7 linked regions of the Homo sapiens genome follow. The protein of the gene in region 6 purifies or fractionates together with the protein of the main gene of each other region. This does not show direct contact. Each region holds a gene or a part of one and is shown on either strand. Other genes may lie near its edges. The genes, in order: ZNF234, PAWR, MPRIP, KCTD5, IVNS1ABP, PAN2 and MYO5C.

Evidence for each region.
Region 1: the proteins of PAN2 (region 6) and ZNF234 purify together in Homo sapiens (affinity purification with mass spectrometry, with the first as the bait; one large-scale study listed by BioGRID). This does not show direct contact.
Region 2: the proteins of PAN2 (region 6) and PAWR purify together in Homo sapiens (affinity purification with mass spectrometry, with the first as the bait; one large-scale study listed by BioGRID). This does not show direct contact.
Region 3: the proteins of PAN2 (region 6) and MPRIP purify together in Homo sapiens (affinity purification with mass spectrometry, with the first as the bait; one large-scale study listed by BioGRID). This does not show direct contact.
Region 4: the proteins of PAN2 (region 6) and KCTD5 purify together in Homo sapiens (affinity purification with mass spectrometry, with the first as the bait; one large-scale study listed by BioGRID). This does not show direct contact.
Region 5: the proteins of PAN2 (region 6) and IVNS1ABP purify together in Homo sapiens (affinity purification with mass spectrometry, with the first as the bait; one large-scale study listed by BioGRID). This does not show direct contact.
Region 7: the proteins of PAN2 (region 6) and MYO5C purify together in Homo sapiens (affinity purification with mass spectrometry, with the first as the bait; one large-scale study listed by BioGRID). This does not show direct contact.

What each region holds. Positions count from the first base shown.
Region 1 is NC_000019.10:44,148,054-44,151,553, reverse strand, and holds part of ZNF234 (zinc finger protein 234), read right to left. Parts: intron 2,784-3,500; coding exon 2,657-2,783; intron 1,142-2,656; coding exon 1,049-1,141; intron 1-1,048.
Region 2 is NC_000012.12:79,589,965-79,593,464, reverse strand, and holds part of PAWR (PRKC apoptosis WT1 regulator protein), read left to right. Parts: intron 1-771; coding exon 772-858; 3' UTR 859-3,500. UniProt on the Homo sapiens protein: Pro-apoptotic protein capable of selectively inducing apoptosis in cancer cells, sensitizing the cells to diverse apoptotic stimuli and causing regression of tumors in animal models.
Region 3 is NC_000017.11:17,185,457-17,188,956, forward strand, and holds part of MPRIP (myosin phosphatase Rho-interacting protein), read left to right. Parts: 3' UTR 1-3,500. UniProt on the Homo sapiens protein: Targets myosin phosphatase to the actin cytoskeleton. Required for the regulation of the actin cytoskeleton by RhoA and ROCK1.
Region 4 is NC_000016.10:2,689,023-2,692,522, reverse strand, and holds part of KCTD5 (BTB/POZ domain-containing protein KCTD5), read right to left. Parts: intron 1-3,500. UniProt on the Homo sapiens protein: Its interaction with CUL3 suggests that it may act as a substrate adapter in some E3 ligase complex. Does not affect the function of Kv channel Kv2.1/KCNB1, Kv1.2/KCNA2, Kv4.2/KCND2 and Kv3.4/KCNC4.
Region 5 is NC_000001.11:185,298,066-185,300,243, forward strand, and holds part of IVNS1ABP (influenza virus NS1A-binding protein), read right to left. Parts: coding exon 2,152-2,178; intron 2,066-2,151; coding exon 1,934-2,065; intron 1,819-1,933; coding exon 1,645-1,818; intron 224-1,644; coding exon 1-223. UniProt on the Homo sapiens protein: Involved in many cell functions, including pre-mRNA splicing, the aryl hydrocarbon receptor (AHR) pathway, F-actin organization and protein ubiquitination.
Region 6 is NC_000012.12:56,327,501-56,331,000, forward strand, and holds part of PAN2 (PAN2-PAN3 deadenylation complex catalytic subunit PAN2), read right to left. Parts: intron 1,142-3,500; coding exon 972-1,141; intron 859-971; coding exon 738-858; intron 573-737; coding exon 495-572; intron 132-494; coding exon 1-131. UniProt on the Homo sapiens protein: Catalytic subunit of the poly(A)-nuclease (PAN) deadenylation complex, one of two cytoplasmic mRNA deadenylases involved in general and miRNA-mediated mRNA turnover.
Region 7 is NC_000015.10:52,243,805-52,247,304, forward strand, and holds part of MYO5C (unconventional myosin-Vc), read right to left. Parts: intron 3,211-3,500; coding exon 3,113-3,210; intron 2,239-3,112; coding exon 2,152-2,238; intron 1,662-2,151; coding exon 1,550-1,661; intron 764-1,549; coding exon 552-763; intron 1-551. UniProt on the Homo sapiens protein: May be involved in transferrin trafficking. Likely to power actin-based membrane trafficking in many physiologically crucial tissues.

The sequences.
Region 1 (3,500 bases), on a different chromosome or scaffold from region 6:
TTAATCCACTCAGTTTGGGGTAATATGTTACAGCAGCAGTAAGAAATGCAGTGTCCAGGTCGGGCACAGTGGCTCATGCCTGTAATCCCAGCACTTTGGGAGGCTGAGGCAGGCGGGTCACTTGAGGTCAGGAGACCAGCCTGGCCAACATGGTGAAACCCTGTCTCTATAAAAAATACAAAAATCCGCCGGACGTGGTTACAGGCACCTGTAATCCCAGCTACTTGGGAGGCTGAGGCAGAAGAATCGCTTGAACCTGGGAGGCGGAGGTGGCAGTGAGCTGAGATTGCACCACTATACTCCAGCCTGGGCGACAGAGCGAGCAATGTCCTTACCAGGTCTGGGAAATAGCAGGGAGGATGATGTGGCTGGAAAAGATGGAGCAAGAGGTAGAATACAGGAGATGTAGTCAGAGACGCAGAGGAGGATGAACAGCAGACCACGCAGGACTCTATAAGCTCCTTTAAGAGACTTCAACTTTAAGAAAAATAAGAAGCCATTCAGAGTATTTTTTTTTTTTTTAAGATGGAGTGTCGCTCTGTTGCCCAGGCTGGAGTGTAGCGGTGCGATCTTGGCTCACTGCAACCTGCCTCTTGGGTTCAAGCGATTCTCCTGTCTAAGCTTCCTGAGTAGCTGGGACTACAGGCGCTGGCCACCACGCCTGGCTAATTTTTGTATTTTTAGTAGAGACGAGGTTTTGCCATGTTAGCCAGGCTGGTCTCAAACTCCTGATCCTCCTGCTTTGGCCCCCAAAGTGCTGGATTACAGGCATGAGCCACTGTGCCCAGCCCTGTACAAGGTCTTAAGTAGAGGAATGGCAATCTGACTTACATTTCCAAAGGATCACTTTAGCTATGATATGGAGAACGCCTGTAGGAGAACATACTTTATACTATTGAGGGTGGATGCAGTGCGCCCAGTACGAAGGCTGTTGCAATCATCCAGGACAGAGGTTTGGCAATTTGGACCCGATGGCAGCAAGAGCAGGGGAGAGAAGTACAACAGATGGACAATCACGTACAAGGACTCTTAGCTGCTTGGTTCTTACCTGATTTCCCTTTTCTTTGAGTTGCTGTCTTCATTATATCAAGCTTTTTTTCCTTTTCTAAAAGGAATACATCATGTTTGAAGGGGTGATGCCCTAGAACACGCAAAGTCACATATTTAAAACAAACACACTAAAGGTACAACTGAACTTACTGGCAATTTGAATTACTACTGTATACTGATCAATCAATCAAAAGTAGTGTTTTCAAACACTTTTAGAAGAACCTAATGAAGAAATATCAGTATTTCAAGATCCAGACACATAGACATAAATATGTGCTATAAAAACCTATTTCTGAAAGGAGTTAGTTCGCTTGCCTTAGGTAGACAGCAAGGGAAGGGTCTTTGGAGAGCCCCTGACCCATGGGTTAGTGTCTTATTTTTATATAACATAAAAAGCAGCCTGGAAAAAAAATTTAAGCTGCAGGCACCAATAAGGGAACTACCACAGGGTGTTGTGCCTGGAGACATGCCCACGGCTGCACAGATAGAAAAACCTCCAGCCCATTTGGATAAAAGCTTGTACATACCTCCAGCTCGCTCAGATAAAGGAGCAAGGCCTGGCATAAGAATGCCTTTGTCCTCTGTATAGTCAGCGGGCTCCCAGGAAAAGGTTTCTTCTCCTTTTGTGGGCATAGGTACAGTGGGCTCCAGTGGGTTCCAGTGGGCACTCTACTTTCTTTTTTTCAAACTGTAAGTCCGGTCTCTATATATCTTTACTTCAACCTGATTGGTCCTGGGCCAAGGTTCCGGGCCAAGCTAAGTCACACTTTCTCCAAAATAGCCCACAAACTAAGCACATTCCTTCCCCTTCCCAGTCCATAAAAACCCCAAACCCCTGCCTCATAGGGGGAATTCCATTTGGGTCCCCCTCTCTGCTGGCAAAAAGCTTTCTTCTTTTGCTTATTAAACCTTCACTCTAACCTCACATTTCTGTCTGCACTCATTAATCTTCTTAAAAATAAAACAAAAAACTCCAGGTGTTATCTCAAACAACAGAAAAACTGTTACATCTTGGTGCATTACTAAAATTACATTTCTAACCAATGTCTTTTTTTTTTGAGACAGTCTCACTCTGTCACCCAGGCTGGAGTGCAGTGGCGTGATCTAGGCTCACTACAACCTCTGCCTCCTGGATTCAAGCGATTCTCATGCCTCAGCCTCCCAAGTAGGTGGGATAAGAGGCATGCACCACCACACCTGGTTAATTTTTGTATTTTTTATTTTTTGGTAGAGATAGAGTTTCATCATGTTGGCCAGGCTGGTCTCGAACTCCCGACCTCAGGTGATCCACCTGCCTCAGCCTCCCAAGGTGCTGGGATTGCAGGCGTGAGCCACTGTGCCTGGCCCCCGTTTATTTTCATTAAATCTCCTCCCACAAGTTCTCACACCACTCATGCAATTTACCAGTTTTATTTGCTATGTATTCCATTAATTTTAGTGAACTCTGATATTTCTATCTCATTTTATTTCACTAAAAACTACTGATAGGAAAGTCAGGTCTACAAATGTAGGCGACTAATTCAAGACCTCCAAAGTGTTGAACCCCTGAAGACACAAAATCACTCCAAGAGACTGACATTGAGTGTTAGAAAGCTCATGTCCTCACCCACTGACAGCAGGTTCCTGAAGTTCTCCAGCATCACATCTTGGTACAGATTCCTCTGGACAGGGTCCAGCAGCCCCAGCTCCTCCTCAGTGAAGACCACAGCCACATCCTTGAAGGTCAGTCCCTCCTATAACATCAAACACACCTTACTTCAGCCTTTTTAACAAACTCTTGAAAAGAAACAGCACTGAGAAAGTGGAGAGTATGTAGGGGGAGCTGGTCCAGATTTTCAGAGACTTAATGTGTAGATTTCTCAGCCCTTCTCCTTCCATCTTACCAATGCCACACTTTGATTTTCCTTAGTGTCAGTAAAAGTACATCAGTAACAATAGCCTTCAATTCCTTTGTGGCTTCACTGAGTCTATTTGTAAGTAACCATCTAGAACTCTAAATGACGCATCCTGAGCCACACGGGTTTCACCTTTCGGTAAATATTACCAATTGCCCCAGAAACATTTAGCAAGTCAGAACCAACATACATGATAACACCCACCTTCCTCCTCTCTCACATAGGAACGCTGGATGCTATCCCTTTTCATTAAAGTCTGCCAAACTAACAAGCTTTTGGTAACATATCTAAAACTGCTATGTAGTTTTCCTTCTGTACACCCAGGGCACACAGCACCAGCATTACCTGCAGCATTTAGTGTCATGATCTGGAGCCATCATGCCTCAGTGCACACAAGGGTACCCTTCAAAGTTGTGTGATCTTGGATAAGTTCACCTAGTTTCATCTTGGTATGATAGTTCTTACATGACAGAGTTCTTTCAAACGTTGAAAAAGAAACTACATATAGCATTTGGAATAGTGTATGGCGCAGACTAAGTACCTAAGAAACATTAG
Region 2 (3,500 bases), about 23 Mb from region 6:
CTAAAACTTATGGTGAATTTGTTTTAACCAGATGGTTGTGTGTTTGGGACAAGGATTAATACAGGGAAAAAAGAGCTGGATCATATGCTTTTAAAGCTGGAGAGCGAATACTTAATTTAGTGGCTTTGAATTAATTTTAGCTCTAAAACCTTTCCTTCAAAATGTCGTAGAAAAGTCCAACATACAAATTGATCTGGAGCTGAAAACAAAATTGATCCAGATCAAGATACTCCAGATCCCCTTTTCCGTAGGCCTCAGTTTTGTCACCTCTCCAGAGTGTTATCCCCATTGTACACCTTTAAAGATCAGACAGTGGTAGGAGTGCATCTAGAACTTGTACCTGCACCTTTTGATGACTAATTTGACACAAGGTTGCAACCTAGGGCTCAATACCATATATGGCTTGCATGGGTAGTTTTTTTTTTTGCCTCAGTTTTAGGGAGGGGAAGTGGAGTTTGTTTAGCTAAAAAACTAACTTATTTATGATGATTGAAAATTGGAAGATTCACAATTTTAAAATTCTGACTTTCGGCTTCCTTTGAAAAACTGAAAGATCTGTAAGAGTTGGCCTATACACTTGTTGTAAGAACGAAGAGTCAAGTAATGGATGCTCTTTTTTGGTGGGGCATATTACATCTAAAGTTGTTTTCAGAGCTTGCCCTCATTTCAAAATTAATTGGTTGTATGAATTATTTTTAATGTGTATTAAGTGTTTTCATCTCTCCTCAAATATTTTTAAGTATTTTTAAAGTGTCTTTTTTTTTTCTTAAGGACCTAGATGACATAGAAGATGAAAATGAACAGCTAAAGCAGGAAAATAAAACTCTTTTGAAAGTTGTGGGTCAGCTGACCAGGTAGAGGATTCAAGACTCAATGTGGAAAAAATATTTTAAACTACTGATTGAATGTTAATGGTCAATGCTAGCACAATATTCCTATGCTGCAATACATTAAAATAACTAAGCAAGTATATTTATTTCTAGCAAACAGATGTTTGTTTTCAAAATACTTCTTTTTCATTATTGGTTTTAAAAAAGCATTATCCTTTTATCTCACAAATAAGTAATATCTTTCAGTTATTAAATGATAGATAATGCCTTTTTGGTTTTGTGTGGTATTCAACTAATACATGGTTTAAAGTCACAGCCGTTTGAATATATTTTATCTTGGTAGTACATTTTCTCCCTTAGGAATATACATAGTCTTTGTTTACATGAGTTCAAATACTTTTGGGATGTTACCTTCACATGTCCTATTACTGATGTGTGCAACCTTTTATGTGTTGATGACTCACTCATAAAGGTTTTTGTCTACTGTCATTTGTTCTTTCCACTTATTCTAAGCATTTAGAGTAATAGAGTCATACTTTTTTATAACAGCAACCTTTTAAAAGGAAAGCTCTTATAAAGTCACTGTCATGTTTTAGTTGACTAAATATAAATTTAAGAGAATACTTGAATTGTGCTATAGTAAATAAAAATTTACTATTTTGTGTTTGAATATTGAAAAATTGAATCACTTTAACTCCTGAAAAACATACAATTGTAATTTCAATGTAAAATTTCTTATGTAGGTACTACCTTTTTTTATCGTTCCAAGGTTTGCTAGTGAACACAGGATATTTTAAAAGTTTTTTATTCTTCGGGCCTGGAAAGTGTACAAAGTCAGTGTAGGAGAAAAAAATCCATATTTTTATATTAGCATGCACACTAAAAACCAAAATATTATTCATACTTAAAACATTCATACAAAACAATATGTAAGCAGAAATAGTACTAAAATACTTTGCCTAATTTCTAAGTTGAAGAATAACACTGGGACACAGTTTTTTCATATGAGAGAATATTCCGCTATTTCAAATTTAAGGGATTTTCTTCCTAACATTGAAATTTTAAAAACAGAGTTACTTCTAAATAATTATACAGATTTTTTCTTCTATTAAATATTATTATTTAGAATTGTTTTTGTATTACATATTCATGTTAAGAACCCCGTCTTCCCTTAAAATACATTAAAATTATGACATTTTTGCTTTGTGATTGAATTTCAAATAGCAGTATGGTATCCTTTTATCTAGTTAATATATGAAAGTGGCTTGAATATAGTCAAATCCATTTTAGGTACTCTACTGACTTTTTCCTTCACTTGCCAAGCCCTTTTATTGTTCACTGTTAGAAAAATAGAGAAGGTGAGACAGCTGGGGGAAAATGTGGAGTAAATGATAATCAAATGTTGAATTCTAAAAGTCTCTACATTTACCTAGGTTGGCTTTCTCCCCCAGTTCAGAAGTTTCCAGCTTGGCCAATCATCAGAATCACTTGAGGAACTTAGAAAGAACTCCCTGGCTGTAGCTCCTATGTAGGTTTAGGTTGAGACTCTGGATTCCACAATTTTTAAAGGTTACCATCTGAGGTTTCTGATCATAGTCTACTTTTGAAGCAGCTGCTGCTGTTTCTTTATTCCATTGAACACCCTGGAATTGACATAATTTTATCTATCAGCATTTCTCCCCTTTTAGTTTATTTAATAATTAACCCGGTCTCCAGGGCAGTTTTCATATGACCATGTGTATATTCACTGCTCACGAAAAAGTTTAATGTTAGATTACCAAATTTAATATAGTTACAGAATTACTGCATAAGGGCTTCCCTTCTTGGAGACTCTTACCCAGCATGGGAACAGTGATCTGCCCACATGACAGGGTGGTATGCCAGGCATAGTTAACTGCTTTTGGTTGTGAGGTACTCATCTTCCTTTAGTTACCCTTAGTTATGTGGCACACATGTCCTTATTGCCTAGTTCGTCATCCACACTTTGGATCTTGTGAAAATGCTGTTAGTATCCAACCTTAAAATATATTAGTATATGGGTTTTTATTAAAAGAATTACTTTGAATTTTCTATTTAATTCATATGTAAATAAAGGAACATTTCATTTCACTTAAAAAAATTATATCAGTTATTAGGCTGGGTGCAGTGGCTCATGCCTGTAATCCCAGCACTTTGGGAGGCCAAGGCGGGTGGATTACCAGAGTTCGGGAGTTTGAGACCAGCTTGACCAACATGGAGAAACCCCGTCTCTACTAAAAATACAAAATTAGCCAGGTGTGGTGGCGCATGCCTGTAATCCTGGCTACTCAGGAGGCTGAGGCAGGAGAATCGCTTGAAAACCCAGGAGACAGAGGTTGCGGTGAGCTGAGATTGCGCCATTGTACTCCAGCCTGGGCAAGAAGAGCGAAACTCTGTCTCCAAAAAAAAAAAAAAAAAAATTATTAATACTTTTAAAGACTGAGCTGTTTAAGAATTTTTTGGGGAACATTTCTAGCAGTGATTTTTTTGGCCTTTAATGATAGCGTAAAGACAGGAGCCTTACAACTTAGGCAAAGCATTTCACATGCAGTCCTTCTTCCATCTCAAAATATGTACTTATTTTACATACAGAATTTTACACTAACCATTGAAAAATAAAGTAGGATCTGCTACAGTTTCACCTGAAAATTT
Region 3 (3,500 bases), on a different chromosome or scaffold from region 6:
TAGAACCACACCCCTGAGAGTCGTGGCAAACCTTTCACAACCTGGAAAATGTTGAAAGCAACCATTCCTATTTTTGTTTGTTTTTTATTAAATCTTGCACAAAATCCCCGGCCCCTCTCCTTCCTTCCTTCCTTCCTTCCTCCGCTCGTTCCTTTCTTGGTCTCCAGTAACCCTGGTCTTTTCATAACTGCTCGAGATTGTTGACCTGCAGCCCAGGTTTCAGACTCTGATTGCAAAAAACAAATGAATTCCCCCCAGGAATCATTCAAAATGGGGGAAGGTTTGGGGGTTTGGGTTTTTTTTTTACCTTTTGGAAAAGAAACCGTCACATTGCTTTGGAAAAGGTTGAGAGGAGACCCCTGTTAAGTCAAGAAGAAAGTACAGAGGATGTCAGAATCTGATGAGAACAGCACATTAGTGTTTATTGAGACTCCGATCTTAACTCTCATTTAATTAATCTGAGCTCTGAAAACCTATCTTGCAGCATTTATCTTTAAAAGAGCCTGGTTAAAGTAAACCTATACTAACAATTTTGCTTTTTCTAACAGTTTGAGGAAGACCTTTTTAACCACCACAAAACATTCTATGGCAATTCTTGAAAATCTCTTAAATTGGAGTCTATTATGGCCCCATGAAAACCATTAATCCCATTAAGATAGGGAGTATAAACCCCTGGCTGGTGGAACAGGTTCTGCTACTTTAGGAGCAAGGTGGGGTGTGAGTAGATGGTTTTCATGCCAAGAACATGCTTTCACTTTGTATTCATGCTTGTGTTGGTGTGATGGTCTCTGTGGGTGGGTGGATGCTTTGGGCGTTGAAATCTAGAAATCCTGTTGCTCAGTTTCTAGATGAAGTCATGAGCAAGGCCATCAGTGGAGCTCTGGCCCCGCCCCCAATGTGCAGAAGGGCCGGGAGCAAGGCCTGGAGTTTTCATGTGTTTTCAGACCCAGGTTTAGGTGCTCTCTTCTCACTGAAATAACTAAGTGCTCTCCACTGGCATCGAGCCCTTTCCACAAGTTTTTAAGGCTCTTAACCCACACTTTCACTCCTCTGCTACTAGTCTTCAGTGTTGTTAACAGCAAGAGAAAATTGGGTTTGTTTAAAAATCTACTTCTCTGAGGTGGCACAGTTGCGTAGCTGTAGTCCCAGCTACTCAGGAGGCTGAGGTAGTAGGATTGCTTGAGCCCGGGAGGTCGAGGCTGCAATCAGTCATGATCGTGTCACTGCACTCCAGCCTGGGTGACAAAGCAAGGCCCCATATCAGATATAGATATACTTATCAGACCCCCCCTGACCATTTAGATTGGCAGTGCTTTGAGAAATGCACTATGACCTTTCTGTGTCAATGGGAATATACAGAAGGAACATTCGGGACCCCGCTGTCCCCCACAGCCTCATTGTTGTCTCCAGGACACTGCTGGGTCACACGAATGCTCCAGGACAGACAGGGACCTGGAGTGCATCAGGATCTGACCAGATAGGAGTTTTTGCCTCGTGTCTGGGTGCTACGATTTTGTGCCGTTCTCTGAGGTCCACCACCTGCCCTTCCTGGCATGGTTTCCTTCGTGACCATCCCTGCTGCCCCTGGGGGTGGACCCCACTGGCCCTTCTGCAGACAGCTCCCTGCCTTCTGCCCTCCAGGGGGTTCTGGCCAGAGTCCATGCTTGGAGACAGGATCATCTGCCTTCAGCCCTCACAGTGCTTTAAATTAAAGCAAGTTTGCCCATAGGACAAAAGAGCATTTGATTCCCTTTTTTCTGTCACATATCCCTTGAGGCTGGACTTCAGGAATCCTGGAAAATTAATATGAGTGCAGCATGTGAGGGGTCAGAGACAGGCCAGCAGGGCGTCTGCATTCCTCCCTGCCACAGGTCTCTCCCCAGAGGCTGGTTTAGTGTAGGGTATTGCCAGGAAACGGACTGAGGCTGCTTTGCTAAGAGCTCCTGAAAATGCCCTGGGCCTGTCCTGGCGTTTCTGAAGAGCCCTCATACAGGGACAGCCACCATCTGGGTCAAGGAAGTCTGGGTTCCCTGCTGGTGGGCTCCATCCTGCGATGGAGTGAACCAGGCGAGAAAGGATGACGATGTTCTTCATGTTGCACCTGGACATGCCCCAGGAACAGAGACTTGCCCAGGTGGCAACACTGGCACAGATGTTGACGGCTGCCCAACTGGTGCCACACTGAGCAGGGAGCCTTGTGCTGCACAGGGCTGGGCCCTCTCTCCAGTTTCCTTCCTGCAGGCATCCAAATACCCTGGAAGGGATTTAACCCCTGAATTCCAGAGGGAAGAAAGAAGAACAGTGAAGAAGTAGAACTGGTTTCTGTATGGGGAGAGGAAAGTCTTAGGGACAGCTGCAGGCGGGGTCTCAGGCTGCTCCTTGGCACCAGCTACACAGTAGTGAGCTTTCCCAGCTTTACCGATGAGGAAGAAGTTCAAATAGATAGACTTCAGCATTTTAATTATTTTCCTATAAATGTATTTATGTGTAGTATGCTAGCACCAGCCAGTAAGCTGTGCCACACATATGAATGGGAAAGCGAGGCAGTTGTGCTCGTGTGAGTTTCTGCAGGCTTGTGGGTAATTACCTTGTGTGCACGCCTGCACGTGCAGAATAGTCACTTTCTGCTGGTCAGTTTCTTTATCCACCCATGGTGCCCCAGCCCCAGGCAGGTGTGGAGACCAGCATTTCAGAGGACGCGCTGTCCACAGCCTCCCGGGTCTGAGTGGATCATTGGGCAGGGGTGGAGACAGTGCGCTGCCCTCTGAGCTGGAAGCCTGTGCTTCAGGGAGTCATAATGGGCCTGTGCTAAGTGGGTGATGCAGTGGACATCCCAGGGCGACTAGAGGTGGCAGTATCGCGAATTTGCAGGTTTATTGAACAAGAGGTAACATCGGAGAGGATCTTGCCTTCGGATTCAGCAAGTATGAAGGCAGAAGAGCATGGAGAGCAAGGCCCCACAGCCTGCTTAGTGAGTTGGAAGGCCCAGCAAGAACCTGTTTCTGCAGCAGCCACCAGCTCCCATCACCCCTTGACCCTCCAGCTCATGCTGGAGAAGAGGGAATTTTGGCTGTTTAAAGAACACAGTTGTGAATCTCAGAATGTGCCTGAAAGGAATACTGACAGATAAGGCCGGAAACAAAACTGATGGCTTGAAAAACATTTTTATGGAATGTATTTACTATCATTTTGTTTTACTATAGAGGTAGATGGGACTCTTAACTTTTGGGTACATGGAAACATGCTGAAAACTGAACACAATCCTGATCATCACTCCTGCCTGGCTGTCTCCTGGGAGGCTGCCGGGTGCCACGGAGCTGGGACACAGCAGAGCCCGCTAGGTGTTGCAGGGCCCTGGAGGCCAAGGCCACCCTGTGTGGGGTCCCTGTTGGCAGCCAGGTCCCTACACAAACAAGTAATCCTGTTTGGCCTCCTAGGTTTTGCATATGACCTGCAGCCTAATTTGGGGTGTAGGGGAAGCTCTGCTGGCCCCTGCTCCT
Region 4 (3,500 bases), on a different chromosome or scaffold from region 6:
ACAATTGGCAAGTGGAAGACCAGCTGCAGAGGGAAGCTACCCTCTCTGCTGAGAGCTGGGAAGTCAATGGAGAGGAGCCAGCCAGTCCGGGGCCGCTTCTCTGCTGAGAGCTGCCAACTGAATGAGCCGACCTGCCTACAGAGAGGAGCTGCCCCCACAGTCTCCTCTGCACTGTCCCAACACTTGGTAAAGCTTCTCTTCGTCATGCTCACCCTCCACTTGTCTGCTACCTCATTCTTCCTGGACGCAGAACAGGAACTTGGACAAAGGTGCTGCCGGCCAGAGACGTTTCTGGCCAGAAAAGCGACACCCTAAAGACACCGTATCAGCAGGGCTGGGCACATCCAGACACAGGGACGTGGAGCTTTGCAAGGCCAAGTTTACCAGCCGGAGCCATGGCACCTTTCCAGGGTGCCTGAAGAGAGATCCTGCTGGCAGTGAGAGCTCTGGCCACAGTGGCTAGGCTCTGCCCAGCTCGTCTCAGTCCCTGGAGCTCAGGCTCCTGACAGAGGGACCAGGAAGCCCCCGGACGCACCTGTGTGGGAACCGCACGCCCCAGGAACCTTCCTGATGCGCTTTCCCTGCAGCCTGTGGCTCCAGCCCATCCCTGTGCTCAGGGGCCAGCAGCCTGGGTGCAAAATACCCAGCCATCAAAGGCAGGGGAGGCTGAGGCACCGCGGGGGACCCCACGTGCATCCAGTTAGGAAGAGACTTGAAAGGAGCAGCCTCTGGAAGACTTCCAGGAGTCCAGATGCTTGTTGCCAACCTCGCTGGGAGCCAAGGCTGCAGGGCAGAGGAGCAGAGAACCCCAGCTGCGTCTACCAAGAACCTGCCAGCCGCTCCACACCCCCGCCGCCCCAGTGCCTCCAGGACAGTGGGCTTCCTATGGGGCCCCCGCCACAGTACACTCCTCCCACGTGGTTCAATTCTCTGAGCCCCACGACCTCTGGGCCCATGCAGGACCTACCCAGGCTGCGTGGACTCGGCGCGCCGGGCCTGCAGCTGCCCCCACAGCCCTCTCCCGGAGTGACACTGCAGAGCCCTGCGTGGCCCTAGAACCCAGCTGAGCCGCCGGGCACCAGAGGCTGAAGGGCGAGCAGTAGGCTGAACCCTTGGTGGGAAATTCCAAAACTGGCTCTTCTGTGGCTGGCCTCACAGCTCTCCGGCCGTTTCTTCCCATGGGTTCCTTCTAACTGGTGGGTTTCCTCGAGAAACAGGCCCTGTCTGGGCAGAGCGGAAGGTCAGGGACATCCGCACCAGGGCGGGGAGGCAGTGGCGTGTGGAGGTGCTGCTCTCACCACTGCTCTCTTTGAAGCTTTCAATGAGAGATTTCCACATCCATAGGAAGTGCCAGGGTCTTAAACCAGGACCCCCAAATCCCACCAGGGTTCGGGTCTCGCTGTGGCCTGACTCGCTTCCAAGCATGTAGGCAGGGTCTTGGTGCTCCCAGCTCGGGTGAGCCCACATGTTCCAGATCGGCCTAATGTGTGCGGGGGCTACTCGTGGTGCCAGCCCAGGCCCAGACAGTGCCCAGCCCAGGCGCGAGGGCCTCGGCAGCTCACTGCTGGTGTTGGGGATGTGGATCAGCCTCCACCCTGATGCAGAAACAACAAAAAAATATGGAACATGGGAAAATGGGAAACACAAAATCATACAAAATTCAGGATATACTCCGAGGCTCATGGAGACAAAGGCAGCAAGGTCACCTCGGGGAGGTTTAGAACAGCGTCTGGGCCAACCTAGGCAGGGCCCCTGTGCTGCCCGTAAGGCCATCAGCGGCGCCTGCCCAAGCCCCCATGACACGAGGAAGGAAAGATGCCCCGGCCCGCTCACGCCTCTACGACTGGGATGAGGAGAGGCGGCCAGGAAGCCAGTGAGATGCTGCGGGCTGGGCGTGGGGGTGCTCTTCTTCCTGGCTTTCTCATACGTTCCACGGCTTACACAACCAGCACAGGCTGCGCTTGATCTCAGGAAGGTTCGTGGTGGTTTTTTTCTAAAACAGCCATAATTAAGACTGTTTTATTGACAAGTCATTTCCCTCATCTTCCCCGCGTCTCACTGAATTGGCATCTGACCTACTTGTGGCCGGGCCCAAGCTGGCATTGAGTGGGCCCAGCAGGCTGGGCTGAGCCACCCATCTCCAGAGGTCCCAGGCTTCAGCCGGAGCCACAGGACGTAGGCCGGGCAGGACAGTTGCCAAACCACAGAGGAGAGGGCGACCCTGGCCACGGGAGCACATGGCAGACAGCGCCGAGCCAGGGCACACACAGCCCTGGCAGACGGAGGAAGACTCCGCAGACAGAGCTGACTGCTCGCCCACTCCCCAGGTCCACAGGGCAGCCGCAGATGGACGTCTGGTCAGGAGAGCAACACTCAGAGAAGTGTGGTAACAAGACTGGCCGCTCTGCTCATCTCACCAGACTCCGGCTGCAGCTCTCCGCCATCCATGCTGTCACCCAGCAAAGCACCGGGGGCAACGTGGGGGTTCCCCAGCCTCTCAGGGACAGGTCCCTAATGCAACCAGCAGCCTTGAAAATGGCAGTGAAGGGCTGGGCACAGTGGCTTACGCCTGTGATCCCAGCACTTTGGGAGGCCAAGGCAGGCGGATTACCTGAGGTGAGGAGTTCAACACCAGCCTGACCAACATGGTGAAACCCTGTCTCTACTAAAAATACACAAATTAGCCAGGCATGGTGGAGGGTGCCTCTAATCCCAGCTACTAGGGAGGCTGAGGCAGGACAATCACTTGAACCTGACAGCCCCGTTGCAGTGAGCCAAAATTGTGCATTACACTCCAGCCTGGGCGATCCAGTGAGCCTCTGTCTCAAAAAAAAAAAAAGAAAAGAAAACGGCAGTGAGGAATGAGGGTGGAGACTGCCAGGCTCTCACGCCAGATTCTGAACCCAACATAACCCTGCTGCTGCCCAACCCTCCCGCAGCTCCCAGAGCTCTGCAAAGAGGGTCGGCCCTGCGGCTCTCAGTCATTCCCGGTGCTCGGAGACACGTGCCACCAGAGGGGAACGAAATCAAGAGGGTGCAGTGCCCTGAGCCAATCCAGGAGATAAACTCTGTCAAATTGCCCCACAGAAATCTAGACGCGAAGGCATAGAATTTCCTGTGCACCAACATCTGCAATCAACCTAATTAGAAATACTTAGTTTTTACTCTGAAATTATCCATTTCAAGTGACTCTGTTTCAATTTCGCACACAAAACCTTCACCTCTACTCTCTCTTCTGTTTTGTTTTATGCAGCTGTGGCATATCTTTGGCCCACAAGAGGACTTTGATGTCACCAATTACTAATGGGGAAACTGAGGCCAGAGACCAAGGAGGCTTGTCCAAGGCAGCCAGATTCGGAGAGCAGGGTGGGGCCCCTGTGCCCTGGTCGCCAGGCCTGCTGCCTCCCCACCACCCTTCCCTTCCATTGCTTCTCGGCCTCACCCAGCATAGAAACTGGAATTTGGGAGGTCCCTGCCCCACACATGACTCAAAGCTTAGT
Region 5 (2,178 bases), on a different chromosome or scaffold from region 6:
CATTCATTTGACTCAAGGTTATAGACTTCCACCGTATTCAGAAATTCATTGCCATCGAATCCTCCCACTGCATAAATGGTGTTCCCTACAGTTGCAATCCCAGCATTGCTCCTTGGTGAAGTCATATTTCCCATCATCTTCCATTCATTTCTAGTTGGATCATACATTTCCACACAACTGATGGCATGAGAACCATCAAAGCCACCACATACAAACAGTTTTCCTAAAAGAGAAATGAGATGGGGTAAATCCAGAGATTAAAGTGTAATAAGGTAAAACTCCCCTAAATCTGTCTTTTGCTTAAAAATCAGTGGTTTTAAAAATAGAAATGCCTGTTCATTTTGTCAAAAAGAATTTATTAAATGCCTAATATGACAAATACTCTCTAAGAGCTGGGAATCAAATCAATAAAAAAACCATTCCCACGTGGAACTTAGGCAACTTAAAAGGGGGAGGGAGAGGAAGCAGTAGCAGCATCTAAATAAGTACAATTTTCACCAACTCTGTGGTAGTTACTATTATTATTTCAGAGAAGAAGAAAAGCAGGAAGAAGCTGGACAATTATCCTACAGATGCAGCTACTAAGTAGCAAACCAGAATAGTTCTGTGCACTGGACTTTATATCAGCCCAATGTACAGAATTAAGACTCAGAAGAGATTATAGGAAAGCAGAAAAATATCTTAGGGCTTTCCAACTGTATAAAATGATTTTGGGGCCAGATGCGGTGGCTCATGCCTATAATCCCAATACTATGGGAGCCTGAGGTGGGAGGACTGCATGAGCCCAGGGGTTCGAGACCAGCCTGGGCAACACAGTGAGACCATGTCTCAATTAAAAAAATAAAATGATTGTGGTACAGAAATTTCTTCTGGAAACAGAGTTATGATTATTTTCAAATAGATAAAATGTTAGCAATAAATACTCCGTAGCTTAGAAAAAATTTTATTACTGATTCTCAAATTCATTATTTTTTCATTTGACCATCACTTAACCAGCTTGCATTCTATGTATCTGTAAAGCACGCTGACAATGCTCTAGGCCAACAGGCTGTGTCTACACTTAAGCCTTCACCAGTTGAGCCATAAGCCTGCTAAGGTTCAGCCTGGTACCAAAAACAATGCTAACTTTTAAATTATGATTATATAATTAGACATTAAAAGTCAATAAAATGGAGGTGGAAAGAAAGCTATGTCTACATTTAAAAAGTTTAATACTTTGGAAACTTGTTAAAATAGTCTAAAGGTTGTATTTCCAATTAGGTATGGAGTAGACAGTTGGAAAAGACTAGGGATTTGCCTTTGTTTTGCAGATCAGATTCTTTAAATTCTGGCTGTAAAGAAGGGGAAACTCAAAATTCAAGATGATGCATTAAGGATATGTTTTATAGAAGAAAATGACTTGGAAATTCACTCAGTGCACCCATCAAAAGACTGGTGAATTAAGTTATATATCAAGTATTATAAGTCTTTGATTAGAAAATATATTTCTAAAGGACAAATCACCCTAATCTCCATTGCATCAAAAGAGATGACTGCTTCTGAATTCTTAACTGTACAACTATAGTCATTGGCCTTTTCTCTCAGAGTTTTAGAACAAAGTCTTGCCACTATCTACTCTTCACCTCTCCAAATCCCAACACTCACCATTAAGAACAGCCACTCCAGCTCCTCGCCTAGCCACATTCATGGGTGCAATTAAAGTCCAGGTATTATTTTCAGGATTGTATCGTTCTACTGTGTTCAGACAATTCCAAGATTCTGCACCTCCGATTATGTACAAATAACCACCAAGCTCACAGACTGCAGACTGGTGTCTCCCTACAAGAAAAGTCAAGTCAAGATTATTGCTACATCTCCCAGACTCTAAGTGTATACTACACATACTGTTGATTTGAAGGTCTTTAAAAAAAAAAAGGAAAAAAAATCAACTTACGAATGTTAAGAGGGGCACAGCTTGTCCACAACTTTGTTACAGGATCAAATACATCACAATTTTTCAGTCCTTTTTGACCATATGGATCAGAGCCACCAACGATGTATAACTTTCCATTCAGAGCACACACTCCTATGTAAGTATAAAATAAAGTTACATATTGATAATTTAATTATCATATTTAAATACTGGATATCTCAGGAGAAAACTATTATTACCTGCATTACAACGGTTAGTTCTCAATT
Region 6 (3,500 bases):
AGGCCAGTGAGGCGGCTGGAGAAGCCACAGGCAGCTAGCAGGTTGCCATGCACATCAAAGTCTGACAGACTTCCTGAGAAGGCATCAAACTCATGTTCCACCTTAAAAGTACGGAGGTCTCTCAGGGAAACCTAGAAAAAAAAAATTCAGTTATCTGCAAATTCTGTTATCAGGAAAAATACCTGCCACCTACCTAACCCAGTGGGGTCCCTACCAAAGGAACTAGGGCTTTAGGACAGGGAAAGTTAAAGCACAGAAAAGGCAAACAGAGAAGCCCAGAGCCAGAAGGGGCTTCAGGGAGACTTCATTATCATAGAAAACATCAAGCTGCAAAATAATCTCATAGTAGAACATCACTGAGTAGGAAGTGAATTCACTCCACTCATCCCTCACCTCCAATCCAACTACACCCCAGAGTTAAGGGAAAGCAGATCGCAATCAGGTATCTAGTGAAACAGGGCCCTGCAGTGGGAGGAGAAATGGAACTTGGCCACCTTGCCAGACGTGTGGCCGCAGAAGAAGAAGCGATTTGTCTGTCTCATGATGGTGACTCCAGGCGTCTCTACTGCATACTGGAGAGGGAAGCAGGAAAAACCAGTGAGAAGAATGATTTTTCCCACAGACCAAGGGAACAGAAAGGTCACACCCACATCTCAGGCACATTACCAGCCCAAGCATACCCTGCCCCCGCAACAACCTCAGACCCCACATAGGTCTTTCTTGCCCCAAGCTTGTACCTTCTGAGTCTCCTGGACAGTGTTAAGATCAATCTCTATTATGTGATTCTGCAGCCCACCAACGAGTAGAGTGCTGCTGTCAGTCAGTAGGAGACTGTGCATATCCTCATTCTCATCCAGCCTGGTGGGGAGAGGAAAGGCTAAGGGGCCCAGGCCTTACAAGCTGCCAATCCCTTAGCCTTCCCACCCTATGAGGCATCCTCGTTCCTAGTCCAGAGCTGAGAAGCCACTTACAGGTAATCAAATATAATGAGGCCCCCACGGGCCATATACTTGAGGTTGTTCTTGGTGAGAAAAAGGATACCATTCTCCAGGCTCTGGATCTGCCGAATATCATCACTGCCATTGACTTGAAAGGATGAGTAGCGCTCCAAGGCTGGGCCAAAAAATGAAGTGGCATGGCCCTATAGAGGACAAAGACAACAGAGACACTTAGAGTGGAGGGGCAAGGGCCACCCTACGGCCAGGTCAGGGACTGAACATGGCTCAGCTTGGATCCTTTCTTGCTTGGCCTTTGTGACTAGGAGCAACTGGGGCAAAAGGCTAGGAACCAGTCAATCTTAGTGATAAAGACACTGATAATACTGTCTTATGTTTGTTTAATGTGTTACACAGCATTTTGGTAAACTCTACCTCATTTTGTCCTCACAATGACCCTGCTGAATAGGTAATGGCTCACTTGGTTAGAACAGTATATAGAAGGTCAGGGACATGGTCCAATTCTCTACTGGCCAGCTGGCTTTCTTATGTTTCACATCTGGGAGGATGTGCATAAGGTTATATGCAAATACTATATCATTTTCTATAACGGATTTAGGCATCCTTGAATTTTGGTATCTGGTATCTTTAGATCTTGGAACCAATCCCACATGGATACCAAGAAGATGATGGTAACTACTAAACCTCCTTAAACATCCCATCATAACCTCAAACTCATGACATCCTAAATTAAATTCACCATTTTTATTTCTATTTTTCTTACTGTATTCTCTATGGTACCAAGATCTACCTAGTTGACCAAGCCATATATCTGACAGTCAAGTCCTATGTATTTTTTTCCTAACCACTAGATAACCAAGGATTTTTTAAAATTTTTATTTATGTATTTATTTTTTGAGATGGAGTTTCACTCTTGTTGCCCAGGCTGGAGTGCAATGGCACGATCTCAGCTCACTGCAACCTCTGCCTCCCAGGTTCAAGCAATTCTCCTGCCTCCCAAGTAGCCAGGATTACAGGCATGCACCACCACACCTAGCTAATTTTTTGTATTTTTAGTAGAAAGGGGGTTTCACCATGTTGGCCAGGCTGGTTTCGAACTCCTGACCTCAGGTGATCCACCTGCCTCGGCCTCCCAAAATTCTAGGATTACAGGCATCAGTCACCGCACCTGGCCTATTTTGCTTCCTAAATATTTCCCAAATCTGAGGCTGGGTGCTGTGGCTCACACTGTAATCCCAGCACTTTGGGAGGCCAAGGCAGGTGGATCACTTGAGGCCAGGAGTTTGACACCAGCCTGGCCAACATGGTGAAACGTCATCTCTACTAAAAATACAAAAATTAGCTGAGCATGGTGGCACACACCTGTAGTCCCAGCTACTCAGGAGGCTGAGGCAGGAGGATTACTTTAACCTGGGAGGCAGAGGTTGCAGTGAGCTGAGATGGCACCACTTCACTCCAACCTGGGCAACAGAGTGAGATTCCACCTAAAAAAAAAAAAAAAAAAAAGCCCTTCAGTGGCCTGAAGGTTCAAGTCCAAGGTCCAAGCTCTTTTAACACAGCATATGAAGTTCTCTAGAATGTTCCTTCCCCAGATATCTACATGGCTCCTTCCCTCCCTTCTAGAGGGCCTAGAATAGTAAAGGAGAGGCACAAGGATAAGTTAGAGGCATGGAGCTCTGCCTCTTTGTTCCCCTTTTTGGTGCTGCATCCAAGTCTCTATTCAAATGTTACTTTATCAGAGAGAACTCCTGACCAACTATTTAAAGTAGCAACATTGTTTCTAAAAGAGCCATTAGGAAAAAAGATTAAAATTAAAACAAAACACTACAAAACCAAACAAAATAGCAACATTTCCCACCCTTCATTACCTCAACCCCCTTACTCAACTGTATTTTTCTTTTTTTTTTTTTTTTTTTTTTTTGAGACGGAGTCTCGCTCTGTCGCCCAGGCTGGAGTGCAGTGGCGGGATCTCGGCTCACTGCAAGCTCCGCCTCCCGGGTTCACGCCATTCTCCTGCCTCAGCCTCCCAAGTAGCTGGGACTACAGGCGCCCGCCACTACGCCCGGCTAATTTTTTGTATTTTTAGTAGAGACGGGGTTTCACCGTTTTAGCCGGGATGGTCTCGATCTCCTGACCTCGTGATCCGCCCGCCTCGGCCTCCCAAAGTGCTGGGATTACAGGCGTGAGCCACCGCGCCCGGCCTGTATTTTTCTTTTAATAGAGATGGGGTCTTGCTATGTTGCCCAGACTGGTATTGAACTCTTAGGCTCAAGCAACCCTCCCACCTTGGCTTATCAAAGTGCCGGGATTACAGGTGCCACTGTGCCTGGCCTCATTGTATTTTTCTTTTTCTTTTTTTTGAGACGGAGTCTTGCCCTGTCACCCAGGCAGGAGTGCAGTGGTGTGATCTCAGCTCACTGCAACCTCTGCCTCCCAGGTTCAAGCAATTCTCCTGCTTCAGCCTCCCAAGTAGCTGGGATTATAGGAACCTGCCACCACACCCAGCTAATTTTTATATTTTCAGTAGAGACGGGGGTTTCACCA
Region 7 (3,500 bases), on a different chromosome or scaffold from region 6:
AGGTAGGATCAGCGCAGCTGGTGGACCACCCTCCCCTCAGCCCTTGGCTTGGCTGGGGCTGCTGTGGTCTTCCTGCTTAGGGGTTCTGTGATTGGTTTGCTGCCAGGCCTTGCAGGGACCCCCTCTGCCATGGTGCACCCCACCTGTTGCTGGCAGGCTGGTCGCTGGCTATTCTTGACATCTGTCCTTTGGATCTTCACTAGGGCCTTGCTGATCTTATGCATTTTCAGTTCCCATAGGAAAGGGGCCCCGGGCCTCTCCCTGAGCTTCCGGAACCCTGACTCTCCTTAGTAACACTCTCACCAGCGCTTCCTCCCTGCAGGGCCCTGGGTGTCGGCTCACCACACAGACACCAGGCAGAGCCAGCACTACCTGCCCCTGAGAGACGGACCTTTCTTGCCCTAATGCTCACGACCACAAAGGGGACCCATGCACGTCTGCACCCTGGGTCACAGGAGAAAGGTCCCTTGTCCTTGATGAGTCCTCCCCGCCGGAGATGATCAGCACAGAAAGCCCCACAGTTCCACATGTGTTCCTTGATTCCAACATACCTCACAGTTTGCTGACCCCGGAAGTACTGCTGGATTATCAGGGCGGCTCGTCTCTCTCGGAGGAATTTTTTCCTCTGGAGCCAGCCACGCATGTGCTTTTGTACCATAACACAACTCTGCCTCAGTTTATCCAATCGAAGTTTCTCTAAATAAGCCACTTGTCCTGCTCTGAAGAAAATTTTGGTTTTACCAAACTGGTACTGATTAGAATCCTGGAAGAGAAAAATGATATAGTTAGAATTAAAATCTGTCAGATTTTCTATAATACAGTATTTGGAAAAGAGCTTTAGGGATTCAAAGGTGCCAGAAATATTGTGATTTTGACATTTAAGGCAGAAAACTCACATCATGATCTAGAAATGTATACTTTGAGTTGTTTGTTTAAAATTACCCTGGAGGAAGAAATGGGACTTAGGCTGAGGAATCCATTTGTGGGTGAGAAGGGGAGTGAGTGTCATTTGCGGCGATTCTCAGTTGGGCTGCCAGAGAACTTCAGCCACTCTCTCGTGGTCTCCACATTGGAGTAGAAGAAACTGGGGAAGTTTGGTTTTCTGTCTCCATTTTGGGTTCTCTTCACCATCCCCTTTGCTGGACCTTATAACTCCCCATCTCTTTCCCATCACAACTCATCGCTGCAGCAATGATGTCAATCCACACAAGGCACCATGCCTGGAGCCCATGTGGCTTGGTGACAACCCCAGTTGACCATATCCTATAAGCCTGGTCCACAGAGGACTGGGTTAGATCGTGGGAGAGCTAAACAGGATACGAGGACACTGGGGAGGCCGGAGTTCGGATGTGGGTCCCTAACGGGGACTCATGGCCCACTGAGCACTCTGCTATGGTCTCTTCAGCAGACAAATGCTCAGGGCACATTTTCTTTCCTTTCAGGTGTTCATGATTACAGTCCTGAGCATTCAAGACAAAGATGAAACAGCATGTTTGGGAGATGTGCTTCCAGGAAGGAGACCATGATCCCAGGAGGTGGGGAAACTGACCTGGATGAGTCTGTGTAAAACCACCTTGCACACCTCCTTTTTATCGCTGAAGGAAAGCTCTTGCTTGGTCATGAGAATGCCGTAGCGACTGTAGAACTCGATGTATGTCCACCTGGAAAATCAAAGGGGATCAAAGCCAGGAGTGTCAGAGGAAGCACATTGTGTCTGGGGACTCCGCTGCCTTACCTGCCACTGTTGTCATAGGGCGGGGGTGGTGCAATCTGTCCTGAGGATAAAGGCACTGATCTTTGATACCCTGCCTGCCTGGGACACTACCAAGACCACCCTGAGCACTCCTGTCTGCCCCAGCAATTGTGCTCTTTCTCCCACTCAGCGTCTTCCCTAGTACACGGGGGAGGCGGTGGGGCCACCACCAGCAGCCGAGATGCAGTGATGGGGTGAGAAGGTGGTGTTGACCTCCGACCCCTACAAAGCCTATTTCTCAACCTCTTCTGGACTTCCACAGGGCAGTGGGAAAATCTTGGGGGCACTTTACAGAAGCCAAAAGTATGTGACAAAAATCATGGCAGCCATGTCCTTGGTTCTCAGCATAGCTCTGATGTCAGGTACTTTTCCCTCCAAGACAAGGACGGACAACATACCTGGAAGGGTAGCTCTGTGCACTAATGCGAATCGTTTCTAAAACGCCGCAGGCTCGCAGCTGCTGAACAATTCTTTTGGAGTCAAATCTTTAAAAAGACAATGATATTATGTGTTGAGGCATCGTAATTGCTCAACATGCCCATAAACAGGCACAGCAGACCTGGCTAGACTGTGACCCTATGCCAGGTACCCAGCAGATACTTAATAAGTTTCTATTGCATGACCAAGAAAAATAGCACCTCTGCAAAACAGTCCATAAAGATGCAGTGGGATATAGAGAAAGGAGCAGCTGACTCTGATGGAGGTGGCATTGAGAAGGCCATGGGGGAACTGGCCTTTGAGGTGAGCTTCAAACGACAACCAGGTGGAAAGAAATATGCTAGCTCGCCTGGCCCAAGCACCCACTGATGCTTGAATTTCCTCTACAGAACACCCAACAGGTAGCTCTGCAGCTTAGGTCTCACCCATCTGGTGACCCATACACACACTCACCACCTCCATAGACAGCTCATCCCCCTTTAGGCACCTCTTTCAGCTCTAGCAAGCTACAAGGGACTTGTTACACCTTATATTCACAAGCTTTGGGTCTCCTCCATGGGTCCCAGAGAACAAGAATAATGCCTCATGCCATCATGTCTGAGGACAAATGTTCTGACCTTCTATGACCTTCTACAAACACACATACTCATTCTTCTTTTAATCAAGTAAAAGGTTCAAGTTGCAAAAACTTTAGTTGTAGAAGATTCTTTCAAATCTAGCCCTTTTGCTTAGCCCTGGAGATGAGGGGGTTTAACCAGAGGGGCTGAGCTAACATTTTATGTAAAGGGCAGCATTGTTCTGAATCATTAAAAAAAAACCCAGAAACAGGGTAATCTCAAGACAATTGGAAGCAAATTCTCCAACTTTATGGCAGAAACTGCCTTCCCACGTCTTCGCTGTGTGTTGCATAAGAACACTTACTCAAAGGGTAACTTCTCATCATTTGGCTTGATGCATCGAACGTAGTGGGGCGTCGTCGCATTGAGGGTCTCCATGAGCAAGTACAGAGAGCTGCGGAACTAGGAAACAAAGCTAGAGATCAAACATGGCTCTGAAATAATTTACTGCTTACATCACGGTAAAAAGCAGCCCAACCTTGTTAAGTTACTCAATAGGAAGAAAAGTTAACCTCATGCATAAACACCTATTATGAAAGGTTTCAGTCCGTGACTGTGGTTTATCAGCATGTCCTACTGTTGTGGACAGAACACTAATACTCCCAGACAGCAGAGAACTGAATAAACCATGTTATTGTGCAAGAGCGTGGTTTGCTCCAGTGCGTGCTGCCTTGGAGGTGGAAGTATGACGA